3 separate regions of the Homo sapiens genome follow, and all the other regions are linked to region 2. The links come from fine-mapping of genetic effects on gene expression. A gene starts in region 2. Each other region holds a variant in brackets. All regions are shown on one strand. Distances are from middle to middle. Region 1 overlaps SPATA6L (spermatogenesis associated 6 like). Region 2 holds the start of SLC1A1 (solute carrier family 1 member 1). Region 3 overlaps SPATA6L (spermatogenesis associated 6 like).

Region 1 (8,184 bases), 110 kb after region 2:
TTATGTGGGCCACAGAGCCTTTGGCTGGTTTAGATTTGAATTTGAAGATGAACACCTTGTGGGAGGATGGGGTGTTACATGCTCCACTTCACTCCAGCTCCCATCACTCACCATTATTTCAAACTCAACTGCTTCTGACAGTCACAAATCCTGCCTGGTCCTAAAGACATCCGAGTTTGCAACACCTTTTGGGAATCACACTTGAAATATCTCGTTTAAGGTCTCATTGCCCCAGTAAGTATGGAAACTTCAAGAGGGCACGGGTTGAATTTTACACCCCTTAGTGTGACCCCTCCCGACCCCACAGGGTCCTGCGCAATACTGAGCACACAGAAGGAGTTTAACAAATACAAGTTGAGTGGGTCCATGCGAGGCTGTGGGATCAATTTTGTTAACTGCAGGGCTGGGAGGAGACCCAGTGAACAAAGGACGTCATCCTATCCCTTAAGCAACAACAAATGAGCTTTCATAATGAAGAGTTCCCACCATGAATGCAACGCTTCCAGCAATAACACCTACTGCCACTGCCTACGGTCTGTTCCTGGAAGTCATCCCAATAAAACAAGTATGATGTTTATCTCAGTTCAAAATTCCAATTTCAGTGAGTGTCCGTTCCTGGAGAAAAAGGAACAGGAAAGTTTATTTGGGGGTGGTGGGGAGGAGGGGACTTCCTAAAAATGCCGTTTACAAACATAACATTTCAATGACAGGAAATACGAGCAGAAAGCCTCTCTTGTTGGCCTAAACAAGAAGTGGTTAATTGTTCCAACTTCTGTCAAGAGACCTTAGTTGCTCTGTTATTCTGAAATGTTCTGAGTTCATGTTTTTCAAACCCTTTAAGTTGAATTATCTGTGATGCCTCAGGGCCAACCAGGTGGCAGCAAAGGGGTGACAGGAAGTGGTACAGAGAACCTGAGGTTTGGAAACAAGACAGAGCAGGGTTTGCAAACTGGCTCTGACGCTTGCTTTTCTGAGCCTCAGTGTCCTTAGCAAGAAATAGGGGGAGCAATGCTTTCCTCAAAAAATTAAATGAGATGAGAATAAGAATAGCTAATGCTCACTGAGTGCTCATTTTGTGCCAGGCACTGATTTAATGTACTTTAAATGTATTATCTACCAACAATAACATTATTAGACAGATACTATTATTACCTCCATATTATACATAAGGACATTGAGACACAAAGAGGTTAAATTATCTGTCCAAGGCACTCAGCCTGTAAATGGCAGAACTAGGATTTAAATCCAGGTACTCGGAGGGGCGCAGTGGCTCATACCTGTAAGCCTAGCATTTTGGGAGGCCGAGGCGGCAGATCACTTGAGGCCAGGAGTTCAAGACCAGCCTGGTCAATATAGGGAGACTCCTTCTCTATTTTTTATATATATAAAAAAAGAAAACAAAATACACACACACACACACACACACACACACACACACACACACACACACACACGGTGGGGCGTGGGGGGTGAGGTGGGCGGAGCTAATGGATCACTCTAAAAGACGCAGAATCCCAAGGAAAAATTTTGGACTAGAAACTCCTCATTTTGTTGAAGAAGCTCCATCAACTCAGCCATCAAGAAAAGGACCCATCTGCACCATGTAAAAGCTCCTGTCCTAGACATGACCCTGTTTTGACCAAATTCCCTATGTGAAATTAAGCATAGGTTCTTTCCTTTGATAAACAAAGTAACTTCATTGCCATAATTTGGTGCCCCTAGATTCAGTGTGGAGGATGGGGCTCCCAGGCCAAAGGAGCAAAGGGTTGGGGCTCTCATCACTGTTGGCAGGGTTCCCAGCACAAGGGAAGAGAGAAGAGGTCTCCCTAAGACCTGCAGGTCCGCTAAGTAGTGCTAGGAGGGGTCCCCTAACCAGAGAAAGACAGCAGTCCCATCCGGTGGTACTAGTGGGTTCTCTGGTCACAGCATGGACTACAGAGCATATCCTGTTCCTCAGGCTGCCCTCCAGAGAGCCCAGCGGGCTCCTTTGATGGACCAACTCAGGGGAGTACTGGCTATACTGAGAGTAGCCTGGCATTTGGGTGCTAGGGCTGAACTCACACACATACCCATCAGTCTTCTCAAATTACACCTAAAACCCGCCACCTCTTTTATGTCAAACATATCATTTGCACTCTCATTTTTTAAAAATCTCTTTTATAATTCATGGCCTACAGGCTTCAGCTAACTTTGGGTCAGTCAGGTGACCACAGAGAACTGGCCTCATTGTACAGCAGCTTTTGTTTGGAGGGCCTAGGTTCCACAAAGGAGATTTTCTTAGGAGCCTCTGCAAACCAAGACCCCATGAAACATGCCCATAAAATATGCTCCAGGCTTTGACAGATCTGCAACCATAAAAATCAAGAAAGGAATTATAAACTGAAGCAAGACAGATGGGAATTCTTTTTATGATGTTTAATGACACAGATCTTCCCAAAGTAATCCAAACCCCAAAACATCACAAAATTATTCATACTATTATACACTCCAAAAGCAAAATACTTCAACTGCAATCCTTGCCCCAGCATGATTCCTCAAAATTGAGATAACTCCTTGAGAAACAAAAGTAAAAATAATAATAATTTAAGGAATAGAGTTAATAGATGCAAAAGTAAAGGGAAAAAAAGCGTAATTTAGTGTGAAAACCAAAAATGACTTTAAATAAGAATGGGCATTTAAGATCTTATTAAAGAGTTATGCTTAAACCATTTCAAAAAACACTGAATATTGAATGTCATGGTGTATATTTTAACAATAACTGAAATGGGATACCAATTCATTAGTGCTGCTTTCCTTTAGCTGCTTACGTAAGCAGCCCTCTCCTGAGACTTATAGCGTAACCTTAATGTAACACAATATTTTCTTACTTTTGATGACTACTTAGAGGTAACATCAAAACAACAAATTGACAACCATAGTTTCAGAGAGACTGAGAACATATTAGCATATGTAATTTAAGCTTGCTGTTGGCCTTGCCAAGGTGGAATGCTGGTTGTGATACAGGTTGAGTCTCCCTTATCTTCAGTGCTTGGGACTGACCAGAAGTATTTTAAACTTGGGTTTTGGTTTTTGTTTTTGTATTTTGGAATATTTACATAAACACAATGAAGTATCTTCAGGATAGGGGATAGGACCCAAGTCTAAACACGAAATTCATTTACGTTTTATATACACTTTATACAGGTAGCCTGAAGGTAATTTTATACATGATTTTAAATAATTTGGAGCATGAAACAAAGTTTCGAATGCATTTGACTGCACCCTGCCACATGCAGTCAGATGTGGAATTTTTCACTTATGGTGTTATATTGGTGCTCAAAAAGTTTTGGATTTTGGAGCATTTCAGATTTCAGATTTTTAGATTGGGAGGTTCAACTTGGATATACCTTTATTTGGCTGAAATTCTAAGAAGAGGATAAATGAATTTTGTTTTGTTGTTTTTGTTTTTGGAGTTCCTTTTCTGTTTTAATTTTTAATTTCATTTTCTTAATTTACCTAATGAACCAATCCCTATGATTACAGTGAGAAAAGAAAACTTGGCTCTCACTGAATCTTCTAAAAACTGAACAAGTTTTAGGGTAGTGTCTTACTCTATTCAGGCTGCTATAACAAAATGTCATAAACTGGGTAGCTTACAAACTACAGGAATTCATTTCTCACAGTTCTGGAAGCTGGGAAGTCCAAGATCAGAATGTTGGCAGATGCAGAATCTGGTGAGGGCCCTCTTCCTGGGTCAGAGATGGCGCCTTCTCGCTGTCTCCTCGCCAGTGGAAGGGGCAAACGAGCTCCCTTGAGCCTATTTATAGGGCACTAATCTCATTTATGAGGGGTCCACCCTCACAACCTCATCACCTCCCAAAAGGCCCCATTTCCTTAGAGGTTAGGATTTCAACATACAAATGTTGAGGGGACACAAACATTCACACTATAGTAGGGCTGGTAGAGGAAAATGCTATGCTTACACTATGAAGGAGGGAAATAAGTTTCCATTTTCAGGCCCCTCTTCTCTGGGTCTGTATCAATGAAGACAAATGTGCCTCTAGTCTCCCTTTATCCCAGCCCCTTCCTATTCCTGCTCCCTCACACTGTGTAAGCATTTCATAGATGCACCTTCCTAACTAACTTTAAAACCTGGCATTGGCAGTCCTATCTGTAGAACCTATTTACTTAATGTGTAGTTCTTTTGGAGAAATATTTGAGGAAGGTTTTGTTCCTCATCTAAATTTACAAAGAATTGCTGGAACGAAGGAGTAGGAAACAGAAGGAGCAGTTTAAACTACGCTCCAGAGGAGCCAGCCTCCTCTTACAAATTTATCACAGACATTCAACATCTAAAACAAGATCTGAACTACCCAGACGTAATGCTCTCTTTTCCAAGGTTTTTAGTGGACTTCACGTAAATCAAGCCTAACACTAAGAAATAAACAAACAACAACAAAAACGGATCTACCGAAAAGAGAAAGTCAGGTTGATAGTCTTTCCTGGAGGATTTATCAGGTTATTCCTGTGAATAGCAACTTCCTCTAGCTCATATATAATTAATTTGAGAGAGAGAGACAGAGAGAGCCAGAGAGAGCCAGAGAGAGAGAGAGGGGAAGTGTTCAGATAAGCACCTGCCACCCAAC[T/C]ACAGCGCTTTCTCTTTCATGTTCAAAACAAACATGCAAAAACACAAATTTTCCAGCTTGACAAGAAAATGTTAGCCCCCAAACAGCAAACACTTTAATCAACAACTCTTACCTGGGCACAAAAGACTGAGTACAGGGTTTGGTTTAAAGGGGATTAGACATCAGTGACTCAACACAGACAACAAAAAGTGTTCATTTCTTTAAGGATGCTTCAATTGTCTCAGTGAGTGAGCTCTTCATGATTCTCCTTAAGCTTTCATTAATTTCCCCTGCAAAATTTGAAACATCACATTCTACATGTGGTATTGAGAAAAAGGCAAACAATCAATACAAGTAAGGAGAAAAAGATAATGTCATACTACCCCAATCTTGGCATGTAGCTATGCCTTGGGATCACTTAGTCTCTGAGCTTTTTCCCCAGATTCCCACAACAGAATAACCCAGTGAGCATCTGTGTGACCTTGGACAATTTACTTGACGTCTTTGTAAAATATCAGGATGATGACAGAGTATCTACCTCTTACTATTATAGTGAAGAGTTAGCATTGCTACATAGTAAATGTGCCAAAATAGGTGTTATTCAGTTGAGCTGTTAAACGTGTTCCAATTAACTATATTCTACTGAACAAATTTCCTTCCTTCCTTCCCTTCCCTCCTTCCTCCCTTCCTTCCTTCCCTCCCTCACTCCCTTCTTTCTTCCTTTCTTTCCTTTCTTTTTGATGGAGTCTTGCTCTGTAATTTGGCACTGCACACTGGGGGCCGGGATTTCACGGCAATTATGCCTTCCAAGAGAACTAGGGATAATCTGAGGGGTTTCTTTACGGGAGGTTTTTTTTTTTGTTTGGTTTTTTGGATGTTTGGTTTTTGTGTGGTAAAATTCACCAATTTTAAATATACAAGGGATACTCTGTTTATACCAAAAGTACCAAGTCCCAAAAGATCCAGAAATAGATGTATTCCAACCCCTTCAACCCATTTCTTCCACCCATTCTCTCCCTCTACGTGGTCAGACAATGGGACTCATTGTTTTTGGCTCAAGAATCCCTGACCTTTTTGTGGTAAGAATCTACTTTTTCATCTCCCTGAGATCTCGAGATCGCTGGGGAGCCAGGACCTGGCAGTGAAACAGATATGGAGAAGGGGAGGGACAGGAATTGGTGCTGCCATTAGAAGAGAGTCCTCAAGAAAAGCCGGGACTGGGACACGTAGTGGGAGCCACTGGGTTGTGTGTGGGGGATGCCTCCTGCCTGGGGTCTGTCCTCCCAACCCACAGGAGTGGCTCTGGCTGTCCTGTTCTAGCTATTTGATCTTGCCTGTTTGGATCTTTCCTGGACTCACTGAGATGGATGCTCAGCATCTTTCAAATAAATGCCCCGTTTGCTTAAGACTAGCCAGAGTCACTTGGGTTTTTCACAATCACTAAAGCTTCACTAAAATGACCCTCCAGGATCCCAGCCTCTCCAGGAATCCATGACTCAAGAAGCGGGGTCAGGGAGGATGGTATGGAGACTTCCAGAGAAGGTATTCTAAGCGTATGCCAAACTACTGGGTGGGAATTCCTGTTGTGTGGGAAACCTATTTTCCAAGAAAGAATTGACGTTTTTTTTTTTTCTTTTCTTACCTTCTCTCTATCCCCCCACATCAATGTCCACATATCAGCTGGTTCAGGGCTCTATGTAACTTGATATTACCCATGTTGAAATTCAATGTAATTTGGCATTTGATAATCATGTGGGCTATGTTCCGTATAACCACCTAAATAATTGCCTAGACGGCAATTATTTTGGTAACCAGAGAGTAAATGGCCCAGAATCCGTCCTTTAATCTAGCAAGCAGAACGTTCTAAGGTAGAAGCCTCCAGAATGGGCCATTACTGAGCTGTCCTGCACATTCCTCTGTGCTAAAGGTGGGGAGCCCTGGCCATTCCTAAGGCAAGCCAACTTGTTCTGTAAAGCATGCATGACCCTCAAAACAGACTTTCAGGAGCCTGACTACAGTGAAAACTTAGCAGGTCATCCCACACTCCTTTATTGTTTAGAAAGACGCATAATTATTCTGATCCTGCTGACATGAGGACTATACAGGACAAAGCTATAGGATCCTAGTGGGAGCCTTCCAAAGGCCAATGCCCACGAACTCTGCTTGGGTTCCAAAGGGCCCTCCTTCACACATGGGGAGACATGGATTTCCATGTAAGATTACACTCTAGCTTTGAAAATGCAATAGAATGTAGTGGTTAAGAGAATAAAGCTCCACCATTCACTAGCCATGTCACCTTGAGCAAGGGACCTAACCTATGCCTCAGTTTTCCTATCTGTAAGATGGAACTAATGATAGTACCTATCTCATTGGGTTGTCCTGAGAATTAGATATGAATTTGTTTAATACATGTGAAGTATGTGTACTAGTCTCAGCACTCAGGCCGCATGTCATAAGGAAGAGCGATTATTATTCTGGGCTTGAATGGAAAAGAAAAGAATATATGAGAAACGATGATGTCCCACAATGTGGCTAACTACTTGCCACAGATCTGAATTCTAGAGTTGCCTTGTTACATGCATTCATAATCAATGCATATTCAACATGCATTTATAAAAACTCTTTACTGCGACCGGGCACGGTGGCTCACGCCTGTAATACCAGCACTTTGGGAGGCTGAGGCAGGCAGATCACGAGGTCAGGAGTTTGAGACCAGGCTGACCAACATGGTGAAACCCCATCTCTACTAAAAATACAAAAATTAGCTGGGTGTGGTTGTGCACACCTGTAATCCCAGCTACTCAGGAGGCTGAGGCAGGAGAATCACTTGAACCTGGGGGGTGGAGGTTGCAGTGAACCAAGATTGCGCCATTGCACTCTAGCCTGGGTGACAGAGCTCCATGTCAAAACAAAAACAAAAACAAAAAAAACCCTCTTTACTGAGCAGCAACCATTGTGGAGGGTCAGGTGATACAGAGACAGCAGCAGGGTGGAGATGGGTAGGCAGGTTCTTGTTCAGTGCACACACCTAGTACATGTGTTTGCAAAGTTAAATGTGATTCCATTGTATGGCACTAAATACTGCGTATAAAGCAGTGAACAACAGAGACAGATTCTCTGATCTCATAAGGTTTCACTCCAGTAGAAGAGACAGATTTTAAACAATCAGCCCAGATAAAAATATAATAAGAAATTGTGTCATAATTTATGAAGGAAAAATGCTGTGTACTAAAGGGTACACATCACAGAGAGAGGGAGTGTCGTGTCATAGAAAATCATAAGCCTGGAAGGACAAATAGAAGTTATCCAGGCAGAGTCAGGAAGACATATTCCAGATGGAGAAAACAACATGTGCAGAGACCCCATGGCAGGAAAAAGCTCCGTGTTCAAGAAGCTGAAAGAAGGCCGGAAAGTCTATTAGATAAAGGGTGATGTTGCGGGCAGGGGAGATGATTACAAGAGGAAGCAAGAGAGCTGGAAGGCACGTGCACTGCAGTTATCATACAGAGCAAGGGAAGAACGCAGTTCTCAGGTCTCCTCCAAGTCTCCTGTCCTCCACACTTTCTAGTTACTTCATATT
Region 2 (8,159 bases):
TCTTCCCCTCCCTGTAAGACCAAGAATGTAACCACACCTGAACACTTTCACTATCAAAGAGAACTATTCACACATTAATCTCTGTTCAGAGATCCATTCATTCTCCCTAGTAATCCCCTCAGCAATTCCTCTTCTCTTCACCTCCCAAAACCTGTTTTACCAGGATTCAAGCCCCCATTCTTTCTGTAACCTCCAGATAGTATATAAACTTCTGGACCTCATTGGGAGGCTAGGTCTTCATTTTGAAGTCTCCCGTGTGTATACGTTCAATACATTGGTATGCCTTTTCTCCTATTAATAAATCTGCCTGTCAGTGATTTTGAAGCAAACCTTCAGGGGACCAAGGGCCTTGGTCCTCCCAGTGTGAAAGTGCAATGGGTGATGTAAGGCCTCTTGTCACCCAGGCTGGAGTGCAGTGGTGCAATCATAGCTCCCTGCAACCTCAAACTCCTGGGCTCAAGCCATCCTCTTGCCTCAGCCTCCCAAGTAGTGAGGACTACAGGCATGTGCCATCATGCCCAGGTTATTTATTTATTTTTTTAAGTTTTGTAGAGCCAAGATTTCACTAAGTTGCCCAGGTTGGTCTCAAACTCCTGGCTTCAAGTGATACTTCTGCCTCAGCCTCCCAAAGTGCTGGGAATATAGGTGTGAGTCGACACTCCCGGCTCTATGGTAGACACTTTGGAAATGCAAAAAGTAGAAGGCAAAGAAGACCATTGTTAAAATTTTGACATATTTCTTTTGTCATATTCTCCACCTACTGGGTTCAAGCGATTCTCCTGCCTCAGCCTCTCGAGTAGCTGGGATTACAGGCACCCGCCACCACGCCTGGCTAATTTTTGTATTTTTAGTAGAGATGGGCAATTCCTGATGATCAATGAGCAAGAGTTCTCGTGGGTCTGAAGGGGTTCAGAGTGTGTTAATGACAGGCAGGTGTTAAAAGATGGTGTTAAGAGATGCCTGTCCAGGTTGACTCCAAGTAAAATTGGTGGTGATATTTGTTTTGTGCCAGGGAGTGTTCTAAGCCTTTCACACAGATTATTGTATTAAATTATTAAAATACCTCCATGAGGTAAAGATAATTAATGCCCCCATTTTACAGATGAAGAAACTGAGACATAAAAAATTTAAGCCAGGTGCCCAAGGTCACCAAGCTGATAAGTGGTGGTGCTGGGATTTAAGCCTAAATACTTTACCCCGAGAACCCTAGTGTAATTGTCTTATTACAACCCAGAAAGTTGTGATGTACACATAGTTCCTCAGATGCTTCCACTTTTTTCTCCCCTCAGGAATGTTTATTTTGTAAATACTGCCCTATCTACAACTGTAATGAGCATGGGTATGCTTATGGTCAACACTTTTTTTTTTTTTTAAATAGATAGAGTCTCGCTCTGTCACCCAGGCTGGAGTACAGTGGTACAATTATAGCTCCCTGCAACCTCGAACTCCCGGGCTCAAACTATCCTCTTGCCTCAGCCTCCCAAGTAGCAGAGACTACAGGCATGTGCCATCATGGCCAGATTATTATTATTATTAAGTTTTGTAGAATCAAGATTTCACTAAGTTGCCCAGGTTGGTCTCAAACTCCTAGCCTCAAGTGATCCTTCTGCCTCAGCCTCCCAAACTGCTGGGAATATAATTGTGAGCCAACACGCCCAGCTCTATGGTAGACACTTTGGAAATATAAAAGATAGAAGGCAAAGATGACCATTGTTAAAATTTTGGCATATTTCTTCTGGTCTTTTTTTCTAAGCACATGGTTTTATTTCGTCTGTTTGTTGGTTGGTTGGTCGGTTTAGTTTTTGTAGAGACAGTGGTCTAATTATGTTGTCCAGGCTGGTCCTAAACTCCTGGGCTTAAGCAGTCCTACCATCTCGGCTTCCCAAAGTGCTGGGATTACGGGTGTGAGCCACTGCACCTGGCCAATATGTTTATTTTACACACATGTGATCAAATTGTACATGCAATTTTAGTATTTCTTTCTTCCCTTTATATTTATAAATATAGATTTATAACATGTGCCATCCCATGCTGTTAAAAACTTCATAAACTTCCTTTATGTAGGCTGCATAAGGTACTGTTGCTTGGCAGTTCCATAATATATTTACCATTCCATTTATGTTGGACATTTGCGTTTTTTCCAGCTGTTTTTTTACTGTGGGACAAATCTGTTCTCTCGCGCACGCTCTCTCTCTTTTTTTTTTATGAGACAGGGTTTCCCTCCGGTCGCCCAGGCAGGAGTGCTGCAGCGTGATCTCGGCTCACCGCAACCTCCACCTCCTGGGTTCAAGTGATTCTCCTGTCTCAGCCTCCCGAATAGCTGGGATTACAGGTGCATGGCCCTAAACCCGGCTAATTTTTGTATTTTTGGTAGACGGGATTTCCCCATGTTGGCCAGGCTGGTCTCGAACTCTTGACCTCAAGTGATCCGCCTGCCTTGGCCTCCCAAATTGCTGGAATTACAGGTGTGAGCCATCGCGCCCGGGACTATTCTCCCTTTCTTGATAGTTTCCCTTCTGACATTTCCTTCCTTCTTTCTTTCTTTTTTCTTTTTTTTTGACAGTCTCGCTCTGTCGCCTAGGCTGGAGCGCAGTGGCTTGATCTCAGCTTACTGCAATCTCCACCTTCCAGGTTCAAGCGATTCTCCTCCCTCAGCCTCCCAAGTAGCTGCGACTACAGGCACGTGCCACCACGCCCGGCTAATTTTTTTGTATTTTTAGCAGAGACGGGGTTTCACTGTGTTAGCCAGGATGGTCTCAATCTCCTGACCTCGTGATCCGCTCGCCTCGGACTCCCAAAGTCCTGAGATTACAGGCAAGAGCCACCGCACCCGGGTCCCCTTCTGACATTTCTTCAGATCTTCCTCGGACACCCAACGACCTTAAAATCCCTCTAACCTTCTTTCTCTCAAAGTTTACTTTCTATAAAGAGCTGATAAACTCATTCATACTAAAGTCTACAGGGTTGTAAATCTTAATCTATTATCGCTTAAAAGATGCTTGTATCAATTTACACCAAAGGGATGAAGCTCTAATTGTGGGGATTTAGTCATCAGAAAATCTAGTAGGGGAAATTCTCCCTACCCACAATCAGAGTAGATTCTACAATAGCAAAAAGGGTTCCAGGCTCACTTAACTTTAGGAACGCTGATAAGAAGACCGCTTACAGCTGCGGAGGTACTGATTTGGTAAAGGGAGGGAAAGAGATTGTATACGTGAGAGTGAAAAAATTGGGTAGAAAAATGGAAGAGCATCAGAAATTCACTTAGCAACACCAAATATATTTGGCACCACTAACCTAGTTTCTCCTGTGTTTGCCTTTCCAATCCGTTGGACCTTAGGGGATGGACCGCCCACTTTCTCCCCAGAGCGGCTCCCGGGTCCGGTTCTCAGTTCTAATCACTGCCCCAAGCCTCCATGCTCCAGGGCCTGTGGTCACAGAGCAAGTCCCAAGGAGCAGAAGTAAAGTTCTAAGAGAAATCACCATCTCCTTGTGCAGGGAACACTCCCAAGCCCAGTGTCCACAGACAAATCACCTCCAGCGACTCGAAGAGGAGAATAATCCCTGTGGGGGCACTGGAGGCTCCGCGTGAAAGTTTCCAAAGCCATGTTCTGCCCCAGGACTCCTTTCTCTCCTCCCAGAAGCTTCAGGCTTTCGCGGCTGCTGGCACATCCCAGCCTGAGTAGCCGAGCAAGAGGGACCCAAGGCAGGATCAGCTTCCCCCGACTTGAAAGGGCACCCGTTCTGCAGGTGCCGGCGCTGGAAATAGCTGGTGTGGAGAACGGAGAGGGAGACGTGCAGGATGAAGTCCGCGCCCAGGAGGGCAGTGGCTCCGCCTCTCTGGGTTAGGGACAGAAGAAAACCCTTAACCCAAAGCCCTAGCATGAGTGAGGCGTGGAAAGCGAGACAGACTCCAGTGGAAGGCTGTGGGGCGGGACTCAGGGTTCCCGGAGAGGCCGCCCCAGCTCCTGCCGCAGCGCTGGGCGCCCTACCACGCCTGCTCCCTAGGGACCCCGGGCGTCCCACGCACGCACCCACCCTCCTTCCCGGGCCTGCCGCTCCTCCCTCCTTCCTCGCTGGTTGGCCCAGGCGCCGCAGAGCGCGGCGGCAGCAGGAGGAGCCGGGCGCGCCTGCCACGCAAAACTACCGGGCTGGCAGGGCGGCGGGCGCGGTGCGCGATCCCGGGTGGCGGCGGCAACGGCGGTGGTGACGGCGGCGACTGCAGCGGCCGGCTCTCACCTCTCCCCTGTGCACCCGCATCTCGCCGCGCCGCCGAGCAGCCAGCAGTCCCCGGGTCGCCCAGCCCACGCGCGCACGGCCGAGCCCAGCGCACAATAGCGGCGACAGCCATGGGGAAACCGGCGAGGAAAGGATGCGAGTGGAAGCGCTTCCTGAAGAATAACTGGGTGTTGCTGTCCACCGTGGCCGCGGTGGTGCTAGGTGAGCGGCGCGGCGGGTGGGCGATGCGCGCACCCTCACGCGCTCTCTGCGCCCAGGCCGCGTGCGGCTGAGGGTGGGCTTGGCGCTGGCGCACTCCATGCAGGGTCCCTCGATGCCCCCTCGGCCTTAGCCTCGGGCCCCCTGCGGGGGCTTTCCCCCAAGCGCTCTAATTACTGCACACCAAGAACAAAGCTCCTCTGGGACTCCCATTTGAGTGCTCCTTGAGCTGCTGGTTCCTGCTCTACCCAAAATGATCAAAGGGGCTTGGGGGTAGAAAGGGAAGCAAGTAGCTCTTGGTTCTGCTCGTTTGAAAACAGGGTTCGATTTTTTTCTTTGTTAATCCCGCACCGTATCTCCCCCTATCACCGCCACCTTCCTCACCCCACACCCCCAGCCTCGCTGCGCGGGCAGAGATTGAGTGTGGATTACAGTTCTCAGTCGAATTGGAAGAGGCACCCTGGCCTCCGGGATGGGCCGGACCCTTAGGGGAGGGAGGCTGAGAACGCTGTCGCCGCTCATCCTGGGCAGTGCGTGGAAAGGTGCCTTCCCACGCGGCGAGCGCCGACTGCCTGCACCCGGGCTCTGAAAAGCTGCCAGATTCGTGCCTGAATTCTGGGATGTGCCACTGTGGCCCGCGGGAGGTCACCGGGGAAGAGAGCTAAGAGAACTCAGCCGTCTCTTCTCCTGCCTTCCTTGCTCTCCACGTTGTTTTTGTATTTAAGATAATGTTTAAGCCATCCTTGCCTGTTTTTAAACAAGGGTGTATTTAAGTGATCCACCCCTCACAGATCACTGGACCAGGTGGATGTCTGAGCCATTGCTCAGAGGTATGAGTTATTCCTATTTAGATTCTGATTTTTTACCAAGGTTGTGTGTTTCTAGCTCCGGCCCGGGGATGCACTTCCTTGGGATTAGCGCCATATCTGTCGCCTTCCCAGTGATAGCTCCTCAGCAGGTGAGGGCTGTTGCACCCTCTGAGGAATGTGGATTCCTCGGCAGGCTCCACCTTCCCCTTGGAAACTGCAGCTGTGTTTGCTGAAAAGGCAAGTGGGGACAGCTTGTTTCCTCCCAACCTCAGGTACCTTCCTCTCCAACTGCTGCTCCTAAATCTCAGAATATATGGTGTTGCTTGCTTCTCCTCCGAACCGCCCCCTCCCCTCAGGGTGGGGATAGGGCATGGAAATGGCCTTTGGAAGTTAATGGGATTCTTGGGGTCAGATTGGATTCTCCAGAACCTTGGGGAAAGGAAAGTCAGGTTTCTAGTAAATAAATAACATCCTGGAATGGCCCTAGCAGAGGCTATTTGTAGGAGGAAAGGAGAGAAGTACAGAAGCAAATCTTGACTATTTCCCCCAAGAAGTGCCAAGTGGTTTTGGAACTTTTTTTTTTCGGTTTTGAACATTTTTAAGGGAAAGTTTATCCTACTCTACCATATTTAAATAGCATACGCTACAAAGAACGACTTGATTTCCTTTAGGCCAAAGAGAAGAGATGGCCTTGTTTGTTTTCCTAGTGATAAGAGTCGAGGATTAATTGTTAAATCTCTTTTTGAAGACTGAGAGATGCCAGGGCAAGGTGGCTCATGCCTATAACCCCAGTTACTCGGGAGGCTGAGGCAGGAGAATTGCTTGAACCCAGAAGGCAGAGGTTGAAGTCAGCCAAGATTGTGCCACTGCACTCCCGCCTGGGTGACAGAGCAAGAATCCACCAAAAAAAAAAAAAAAAAAAGGAAAAGGACTTTTAGAGGGCCAGGCACGGTGACTCACACCTATAATCCCAATATTTTGGGAGGCCAAGGAAGGAGGATTGCTTGAGCCCAGGAGTTGGAGACCAGCCTGGGCAACATGGCAAAATGCCATCTCTACAAAAAAGTACAAAAATTAGCGTGGTGGTGCACATCTGTAGTCCTAGCTACTCAGGAGACTGAGGTGGGAGGATCACCTGAGCCCAGGGAGGTCGAGGCTGCAGTGAGCCGTGATCGTGACTCTGCACTCCAGCCTGGGCAACAAGAATGAGACCTTGTCTAAAAAGAAAAAAAAAAAAGACTTTGCAGGATAAACATTGGCTTGAGTCTCCCTCCTGATTCCCTGTGGAAGTGGAGTTATCCTGCCTTTTCAGCATGGGGCTCTCCAGAGATACTCACTTGCTACCCAAGTGTTGCACACCACTCGTCAGCATGCGATTCACTGGAGACTGGTTTGGAGAAGGTTTTAAGCAATTGTTCCCTGGCCTTTGGAATCAGTTGCGTGAATAAGAAGAAGTACATGCTCATTTTGCAGACATGGCCTTTGGTCTCAGATGGGCACTTTCCTCCAATTTTAATGTCTGTGAGCCCCAAGAGCTTAGTTTGAGTACTTTTCTCCAGAAAGGAAAGTCACCACTTAAAAATCAAGTGCCCAGCTGAAATCTTCCTAGATATTTGTTCCTTCAGATGGCAACAAAGGGCAGTCCTGCTTCTGGTCTGAGAAGTCTCAAACCTAGACCACCCCCGATATGCCCATTAACAGGGGTCCTTTTCTTGTCCTTTTTCTTCAGAGTACTGGGCCTGAGTGGAAACTCATACTTGTTTGTGTAGTCTGTAAGGGCTGATTTGTTTAATTGACAGTGAAATTCCAGTGACTTATAACAGTGGCACTGAGTCTATTCATAAACCCTTGCTAGATAATGATAGTAAGAGCTTATTTTATAACTGCCTTAACTGATCCAGAAAAATCGCAAGAGCTCTAATGCAGCCTCCCTTTTGGACTTTTCAGCATGTGGAACTTAAAGAAGAAAAAAAACTGTGAAATTTATTAACTATCATGACAAAACATCTTCTTCTGATTATAGCCGTTCAAATGTTTGGTCCCTGACCAGGTGCAGTGGCTCAGACTTGTAATCCTAGGACTTTGGAAGGCCAAGGTAGGAGGAATGAGTGAGTTCAGGAGTTTGAGACCAGCCTGATCTCATCTCTATTTCTAAAAAAAATAATTTAAAGAAATAATAATGCAATGAAATGTTCAGTCACTACTATAATTCAGTAGCCCTAATACTTTGAAATATTTGATTATAGAAATAAGAGGCAAAGATTTTTATGAGCCAGCTTAAAGCCTGATTTTTCAAGATACAGCACATGAGGGGAAATGTAATAAGGGTCATCTTTATTAGGTGTGGAAGTTCACTCTTTTCATGGACAAGGAAATGCTAAGAACTAAACATTTCTCAAATTCTTGTTCACAAGATGAAGGGATTCAATAGTTAGGTGACCATCTTTTTAAATTTCTGCGACACCCTACATGGTCCTGAAAATAGTATCTTGGATTTTCACAGGAAAATCCTCTGCTAAAATACCACTAGAAACACTTTCACGGCTTTCATTACAATTCTTATAGGCTTATTCTCTGCTTCCATAGAATGGTAGAATGAGCACAGAGCCTGGAGTGAAGAGTCCTTGGGATTTGAATTCTGGTACTATCAAGCTCTATCATGCAGGCAAACTGTGTATTTCCCTACAAGCCTCAATTTCCTCATCTGGAAATTGGAGATATTACTTATTACTTCGTTTGTTATTAGAGGTGTGAAAGATACTCAGTTGTGTGGCTGGCATATATTCAGCACTCAATAGTTGTTATTTTAAGGTAAATCTGAATAATTTGATTATGAGAAAATTAATATTTTCTTATGAAATAAATTCTCTCATAGTATGTCTCTTTCTGTGTCCTGCTTAGTGTCCCGCCTAT
Region 3 (8,184 bases), 120 kb after region 2:
GATTAAGAATCTCACTCAAAACCACTCAACTACATGGAAACTGAACAACCTGCTCCTGAATGACTACTGGGTACATAACGAAATGAAGGCAGAAATAAAGATGTTCTTTGAAACCAACGAGAACAAAGACACAACATACCAGAATCTCTGGGATACATTCAAAGCAGTGTGTAGAGGGAAATTTATAGCACTAAATGCCCACAAGAGAAAGCAGGAAAGATCCAAAATTGACACTCTAACATCACAATTAAAAGAACTAGAAAAGCAAGAGCAAACACATCCAAAAGCTAGCAGAAGGCAAGAAATAACTAAAATCAGAGCAGAACTGAAGGAAATAGAGACACAAAAAACCCTTCAAAAAATTAATGAATCCAGGATCTGGTTTTTTGAAAGGATCAACAAAATAGATAGACCACTAGCAAGACTAATAAAGAAAAAAAGAGAGAAGAATCAAATAGACGCAATATAAAATGATAAAGGGGATATCACCACCGATCCCACAGAAATACAAACTACCATCAGAGAATACTACAAACACCTCTACGCAAATAAACTACAAAATCTAGAAGAAATGGATAAATTCCTCGACACATACGCTCTCCCAAGACTAAACCAGGAAGAAGTTGAATCTCTGAATAGACCAATAACAGGATCTGAAATTGTGGCAATAATCAATAGCTTACCAACCAAAAAGAGTCCACGACCAGATGGATTCACAGCCGAATTCTACCAGAGGTACAAGGAGGAACTGGTACCATTCCTTCTGAAACTATTCCAATCAATAGAAAAAGAGGGAATCCTCCCTAACTCATTTTATGAGGCCAGCATCATTCTGATACCAAAGCCTGGCAGAGACACAACCAAAAAAGAGAATTTTAGACCAATATCCTTGATGAACATTGATGCAAAATTCCCCAAAAAATACTGGCAAAACGAATCCAGCAGCACATCAAAAAGCTTAACCACCATGATCAAGTGGGCTTCATCCCTGGGATGCAAGGCTAGTTCAATATACGCAAATCAATAAATGTAATCCAGCATATAAACAGAACCAAAGACAAAAACCACATGATTATCTCAATAGATGCAGAAAAGGCCTTTGACAAAATTCAACAACACTTCATGCTAAAAACTCTCAATAAATTAGGTATTGATGGGACGTATTTCAAAATAATAAGAGCTATCTGTGACAAACCCAAAGCCAATATCATACTGAATGGGCAAAAACTGGAAGCATTCCCTTTGAAAACTGGCACAAGACAGGGATGCCCTCTCTCACCACTCCTATTCAACATAGTGTTGGAAGTTCTGGCCAGGGCAATTAGGCAGGAGAAGGAAATAAAGGGTATTCAATTGGGAAAAGAAGAAGTCAAATTGTCCCTGTTTGCAGACGACATGATTGTGTGTGCAGAAAACCCCATTGTCTCAGCCCAAAATCTCCTTAAGCTGATAAGCAACTTCAGCAAAGTCTCAGGATACAAAATCAATGTACAAAAATCACAAGTATTCTTATACACCAACAACAGACAAACAGAGAGCCAAATCATGAGTGAACTCCCATTCACAATTGCTTCAAAGAGAATAAAATACCTAGGAATCCAACTTACAAGGGATGTGAAGGACCTCTTCAAGGAGAAGTATAAACCACTGCTCAATGAAATAAAAGAGGATACAAACAAATGGAAGAACATTCCATGCTCATGGGTAGGAAGACTCAATATCGTGAAAATGGCCATACTGCCCAAGGTAATTTACAGATTCAATGCCATCCCCATCAAGCTACCAATGACTTTCTTCACAGAATTGGAAAAAACTACTTTAAAGTTCATATGGAACCAAAAAACAGCCCGCATCGCCAAGTCAATCCTAAGCCAAAAGAACAAAGCTGGAGGCATCACACTACCTGACTTCAAACTATACTACAAGGCTACAGTAACCAAAACAGCATGGTACTGGTACCAAAACAGAGATATAGATCAATGGAACAGAACAGAGCCCTCAGAAATAATGCCGCATATCTACAACTATCTGATCTTTGACAAACCTGAGAAAAACAAGCAATGGGGAAAGGATTCCCTATTTAATAAATGGTGCTGGGAAAACTGGCTAGCCATATGTAGAAAGCTGAAACTGGATCCCTTCCTTACACCTTATACAAAAATCAATTCCAGATGGATTAAAGAATTAAATGTTAGACCTAAAACCATAAAAACCCTAGAAGAAAACCTAGGCAATACCATTCAGGACATAGGCATGGGCAAGGACTTCATGTCTAAAACACCAAAAGCAATGGCAACAAAAGCCAAAATTGACAAATGGGATCTAATTCAACTAAACAGCTTCTGCACAGCAAAAGAAACTACCATCAGAGTGAACAGGCAACCTACAAAATGGGAGAAAATTTTTGCAACCTACTCATCTGACAAAGGGCTAATATCCAGAATCTACAATGAACTCAAACAAATTTACAAGAAAAAAACAAACAACCCCATCAAAAAGTGGGCAAAGGACATGAACAGACACTTCTCAAAAGAAGACATTTATGCAGCCAAAAAACACATGAAAAAATGCTCATCATCACTGGCCATCAGAGAAATGCAAATCAAAACCACATTGAGATACCATCTCACACCAGTTAGAATGGCAATCATTAAAAAGTCAGGAAACAACAGGTGCTAGAGAGGATGTGGAGAAATAGGAACACTTTTACACTGTTGGTGGGACTGTAAACTAGTTCAACCATTGTGGAAGTCAGTGTGGCGATTCCTCAGGGATCTAGAACTAGAAATACCATTTGACCCAGCCATCCCATTACTGGGTATATACCCAAAGGACTATAAATCATGCTGCTATAAAGACACATGCACACCTATGTTTATTGCGGCACTACTCACAATAGCAAAGACTCGGAACCAACCCAAATGTCCAAGAATGATAGACTGGATTAAGAAAATGTGGCACATATATACCACGGAATACTATGCAGCCATAAAAAATGATGAGTTCATGTCCTTTGTAGGGACACGGATGAAATTGGAAATCACCATTCTCAGTAAACTATCGCAAGAACAAAAAACCAAACACCGCATATTCTCACTCATAGGTGGGAATTGAACAATGAGATCACATGGACACAGGAAGGGGAACATCACACTCTGGGGACTGTTGTGGGGTGGGGGGAGGGGGGAGGGATAGCAGTGGGAGATACACCTAATGCTAGATGACGAGTTAGTGGGTGCAGC[G/A]CACCAGCGTGGCACATGTATACATATGTAACTAACCTGCACAATGTGCACATGTACCCTAAAACTTAAAGTATAATAATAAAAGAAAAAAAAATTTTTAATCCAAAAAATTTTAATATAAAATTTAATCCCAGTAGTTGTTGTTTCACGGAGAGATTATCACCCAGGCTAACGTACAACTGCATGATCATAGCTCACTGCAACCTTGAACTCTTGGACTCAAGCAATCCTCCAACTTCAGCCTCCCAGGTAGAGAGGACCAACTAGGTACATGTTGCCATGCCTGGCTATTTTTTTTTTTCCTTAAGAGATAGGGTCTTGCTACCCAGGCTGGTCTCGAACTCCTGGGCTCAAGGGATCCTTCCACCTCAATCTCCCAAAGAGCTGGGACTACAGGTATGCACCACCATGCAGAGCTCACTTTCAAATATTTTGTAGAGACAGGGTCTCCCCATGCTGTCCAGGCTGGTCTCAAACTTTTGTACTCAGTGATCCTCCTGCCTCAGCCTCCCAAAGTGCTGGGATTACAGGTGTGAGCCACTACACCCAGCCTCCAATCCTGGTTGTTTCCTACCACCAGGACTTTATCTTATATCTCATTTACTTTAGGCCACCCAGACTCCAAACTGAACCATAGGTTTGACAGTCTCTTTCAGTTCCCCAAACATAGAGCATTTTCTACCTTCCATAGGCATTTGGCAACACTGTTCTCTCTTCTACCTCCCAACCCCAGGGGCTCACTACTCTTATTAACTCCTACCCACCCTTCAGAGTTCAGTTCAATTGTTGAGTTCTCAGCAAAGTCCTTTCTGAGCCCTCTCCTGTAGAGGAGGTCAGCTGCTCTGTTATACGGACTTGCAGTTTCATTTATCTATACCTCATTAATACCATTTGCACCACTGGACATTTTGTCATTATTTGGTTAATGGCGGTCTTTACTCCTAGAGTGAAATTGAGCTGAGACTCTTTGTTTAATAGCTCATCCCAGGGCAGAGTAGGAACTGAATAGCACAGTAAGTAGCTAATAAATATTTCTTGAGTGATTGAATTCATTCTCTCGTTCATTCATTCATTCATTCATCCATCCATTAATATTCAGGAGGGGGATGGTTACCAAATCCTAAAGTCTGAGGTATAACTAAGCTGAAAGTGTACATAGCAATTTGATAATGAAAGGCACAGATACAGTTTTCTAAAAACACCCAAAGAATTATAGCCACTTGGGGCCAGGCGCAGTGGCTCACACCTATAATCCCAGCACTTTGGAAGGCTGAGGCGGGCGGATCTCTTGAGGCCAAGAGTTCCAGACCAGCCTGGCTAAAGTAGTGAAACCCCATCTCTACTAAAATACAAAAAATTAGCCAGGTGTGGTGGTGGTACATCTGTAGTCCCAGATACCAGGAGGCTGAGGCATGAAAATTGCTTGAACCTGGGAGGTGGAGGTTGTAGTGAGCTGAGATGGGGCCACTGTACTCCAGCCTGGGTAACATAGCAAGATTCTATCTCAAAAAAAAAAAAGAAAGAAAGAAAGAAAGAAAATGATTCTCTTTAATTAATGTATGGTAAACACTGGAAATGACAGGAACATCTGGAAATCCAGTTGTTACTATGGCTACCATATGAATGACCTCCCTGTGCAGTTGCCCCTCTGCTTGGCTGGTTCCGGCCCACATCCAGGCCTCCACTCCAGCTCTCTCTGTGACAAGCATGTCCCACTGGTTTTTCCAGGGAGATAAGACCAACAGTATGAATGGATCTACACAAATCCATTGCCAACCCAAGAAAACAACTCATAGTAAATGGAAGCACCACCTAAAGCACTGCCCATGTTTAAGACTACAAACATTATTTCTATTCTTCTCTAAGAACTTTTTTTTTTTGACCCAGAGTCTCATTCTGTTGCCCATGCTGGAGTGCAGTGGCGCTACCTCCGCTCACTGCAACCTCTGCCTCCTATGTTCAAGCAATTCTCCTGCCTCAACCTCCCAAGTAGCTGAGACTACAGGTATAAGCCACCAAGCCCAGCGAATTTTTGTATTTTTCGTAGAGACGGGGTTTTGCCTTGTTGGCCAGGCTGGTCTTGAATTCCTGACCTCAAGTGATCCACCCACCTCGCTTCCCAAAGTGCAGGGATTCCAGGTGTGAGCCACCACGCTTGGCCCTTCTCTAAGAATGTTTAGGAGGAAGGAATAGAAATATGTTGAAGCTATAAATGAAGCTAGCATTTAAAAACAGCCACCAGCTAGATACTGTAAATTCTTTTTCATAGGTCTAGAGTAACCAATACCAAAGCGACTCTTTCATTTGTTACCATTATTGTTACATGCAATTTATTTTACATTTGAAGATCTCAGAGAATGATGAGTCAACAGATGGGAGCAGCGCTGTGCCTTTACCACAGCCTTCTCCATGGGATCTACCTTCTCCTCGAGTCATGTGGAGAGAGAGGATGTGCTGAAGGGGCATGACGCTATTCAGATGGTGGATACAGGGAACAGGCTTGGCAGTGTTTCTCCCTCCTTTAGTACTCCCATTGTTCACTCTTATAATGTGTTTTCTACCTTGTCCATTAAAACCTTGGGTTGACTCTCATTCCAAAATTTGTCTCCCAACTCATCCTTATGACCTTGATCCTTACTGACTTCAGTATTAAGTTAGCAGAAAAGCAACAGGGATTCTCATGCACCCTTGTGAACTGGACACAGAGAAAGAGTGGTCCTGATATTGCTGGTATGAAAAGAACACTGAGTGAGTGGAGACACAGTGCTGACAACCCCCAGTGTCCCAGGAATCTGCCCTAGTGATCGCTCTAAAGCCAACGGGCAATGTGTTCTGCAAGGATATGAAGGGCACATCCCTCATTCAAAAGAACTGTTTTTAAAATATTATCTTCAGAGCCACTTCTCTAGTGTGAAGGTGACCAGCTGTCTTGGTTTACCTGGGACTCAGGGGTTTCCCAGGATGCAAACTTTTGGTACTGAAACCAGGACAGCCATGGGCAAACTGGATGGCCTTTCTGTGGCTGTGTTATTATTTGCCGCTGATAATCATGGCCTTATTTACAAACTCATAGTCCAACTAGGTCCCAAGTTACCAGTTTAGAGAGACTTTGGGCACAAAGAATTTGCTGCCTCATCAGAGATGGCCAATAAAACTCTGGTCTGCAGCTAAGACTCATCTTTCTAAAGTCACTTGTGCCAACTCCTGTGACTAATGTCACAGAGCTCCTCACTCCTTCCAAGCAAAGCCCAAGCTCCTTAGGTCAGCCAACAAAGGTCCCCCTCAAACCTTTGAGTCCTGGCACTGACTTTCTCCCAAACTCCTCTAACTGCTGGAAGCTGACAGTGCCCCTGCCTCCCACCTGCCATCACTCACCTCTATGAACCCCATCATAAACCAATCTTCTCTCCTCAAGGCCACATGAAAGCATCACCTCCTCCATGAAACATTCCAGAAGTACCACCCTTCTTCTTTATACTCCAGTAACTTTTGTTCCACACTATTCACAAAGTGCTGCTTTGTAGAAAGCTCTTTGCATACTTCTTTTTTATTATTTTTTTTATATCCTCTGCTAGGTTGCAAGTTTTCAGAGATCAGGAGAAATGTCTTAAATGTTAGTGTTCCCATTGCTGGCCTAGCAGATTGAGTATCATTCCTGCTTTCCGTCTTAACCACAGATTTAACGTGCTCCCCGCCCACATACTCAATTCCAATCCCAGTTGATTTTGACTCAGTAAACATGAGGCAATTCTTCCGTTGGCCAGAGTTGAGAATTGCTGGCCTGCTGCATAAAGACACTCAGGAAAGGCTGGCTGAATGAATGCATAAACCATCTAACACATATTTAAAGAGAAAAGAGGACTTCTCAGGTCTCTCTCCTGATGTAACTGATTTCCTCTCACTCTGTCTCTCCCCTGCATTTGGATTGTACTTCTGTTAGGTACCTACCACAATCTATCTCATATTCAGTGACAAGGGGGTATGTCTGCCTTCCTGTCTAGTATGTGAGCCAGTGGAAAGCAGAGACATGTCATGATGGTGTCCATTGCCCCCAACAGTTGCCCAATAACAGCATGCTCAATACAGTCTCTCAGAAAAGCTTGCTGTACTGCTTTTAAGGAGTTTGGGAGGTGTTATAGATACCAGGCACAGAGACAAAAACCACGGGTTTTCCCCAGTTCTGGTGGCTGAGAAGCACTTTGTGGCTGTATGCAGATGGATCTTTGATCATCAAACCCATTTTAAAGATGAGGAAACTGAGGTTTAAAAGGTTGAAGCCAGGCACGGTGGCTCATGCCTGTACCCAGCACTTTGGGAGGCCAAGACAATTGCTTGAGCCCAGGAGTTTGAGAAGAGCCTGGGCAACACAGTGAGACCCCATCTTTACAAAAATAAAAATATGAAAATTAGCCGGGCATGCCGGTGCGCACCTGCAGTCCCAGTTACTCAGGAGGCTGAGGCAGGAGGATTGCTTGGGTTGGGGAGGTCAAGGCTGCAGTAAGCTGTGATTGTGCCACTGCACTCCAGCCTGGGTGACAAAGCAAGACCCCATCTCGAAAAAAAATAATAATAATTAATTTAAAAAAATAGGTGGAGTAGCTGTGTGAAATCACCCAGCACTTAGAGACACATGAGCGCTAGAGCCCATGTCTCCTGACCACTGTTAATTGAAAGTTCTTTCCGTTCTTCATTTAAAATCAATCCTCTACAAGTCTTTAAATCCAGGATGACCTCCTGTGCTTTGCCAGCCTGCTGAATTCCAGGCTGGTGGCAAAAGCATAAGACAGGAGGGGACAGAGGCCAGGCATAGAGAGGTGTAAGTGTGTCTCTGACCACTTGTCTCTGTGTGCCAGAGCCAGTTTTTTGTTTGTTTGTTTGTTTTAAACGGAATTGCGCTCTTGTTGCCCAGGCTGGAATGCAATGGCACGATCTCAGCTCACCC

Evidence for each region.
Region 1: its variant is fine-mapped to the expression of SLC1A1 in T cells (TOPMed, PIP above 0.99). The same link has a PIP of 0.9 or more in blood mononuclear cells.
Region 3: its variant is fine-mapped to the expression of SLC1A1 in blood mononuclear cells (TOPMed, PIP 0.95).

Annotation. Positions count from the first base shown.
Region 1 is chr9:4,595,916-4,604,099 of GRCh38, forward strand. It overlaps SPATA6L (spermatogenesis associated 6 like), which reads right to left. Exons shown (of 12, transcript NM_001353486.2): 12 at 2,401-4,894. Among named protein-coding and RNA genes, the nearest start is that of PLPP6, 62 kb to the right of the region's middle. The variant T/C (reference allele first, on the strand shown) is at 4,626.
Region 2 is chr9:4,486,331-4,494,489 of GRCh38, forward strand. It overlaps SLC1A1 (solute carrier family 1 member 1), which reads left to right and starts at 4,138. Exons shown (of 12, transcript NM_004170.6): 1 at 4,138-4,440. The coding sequence starts at 4,350. It also overlaps a transcript of GLIS3 not described here. RefSeq lists silencers at 401-490, 3,936-4,365 and an enhancer at 3,736-3,785.
Region 3 is chr9:4,608,480-4,616,663 of GRCh38, forward strand. All of the region lies in intron 9 of SPATA6L (spermatogenesis associated 6 like), which reads right to left. Among named protein-coding and RNA genes, the nearest start is that of PLPP6, 50 kb to the right of the region's middle. The variant G/A (reference allele first, on the strand shown) is at 3,243.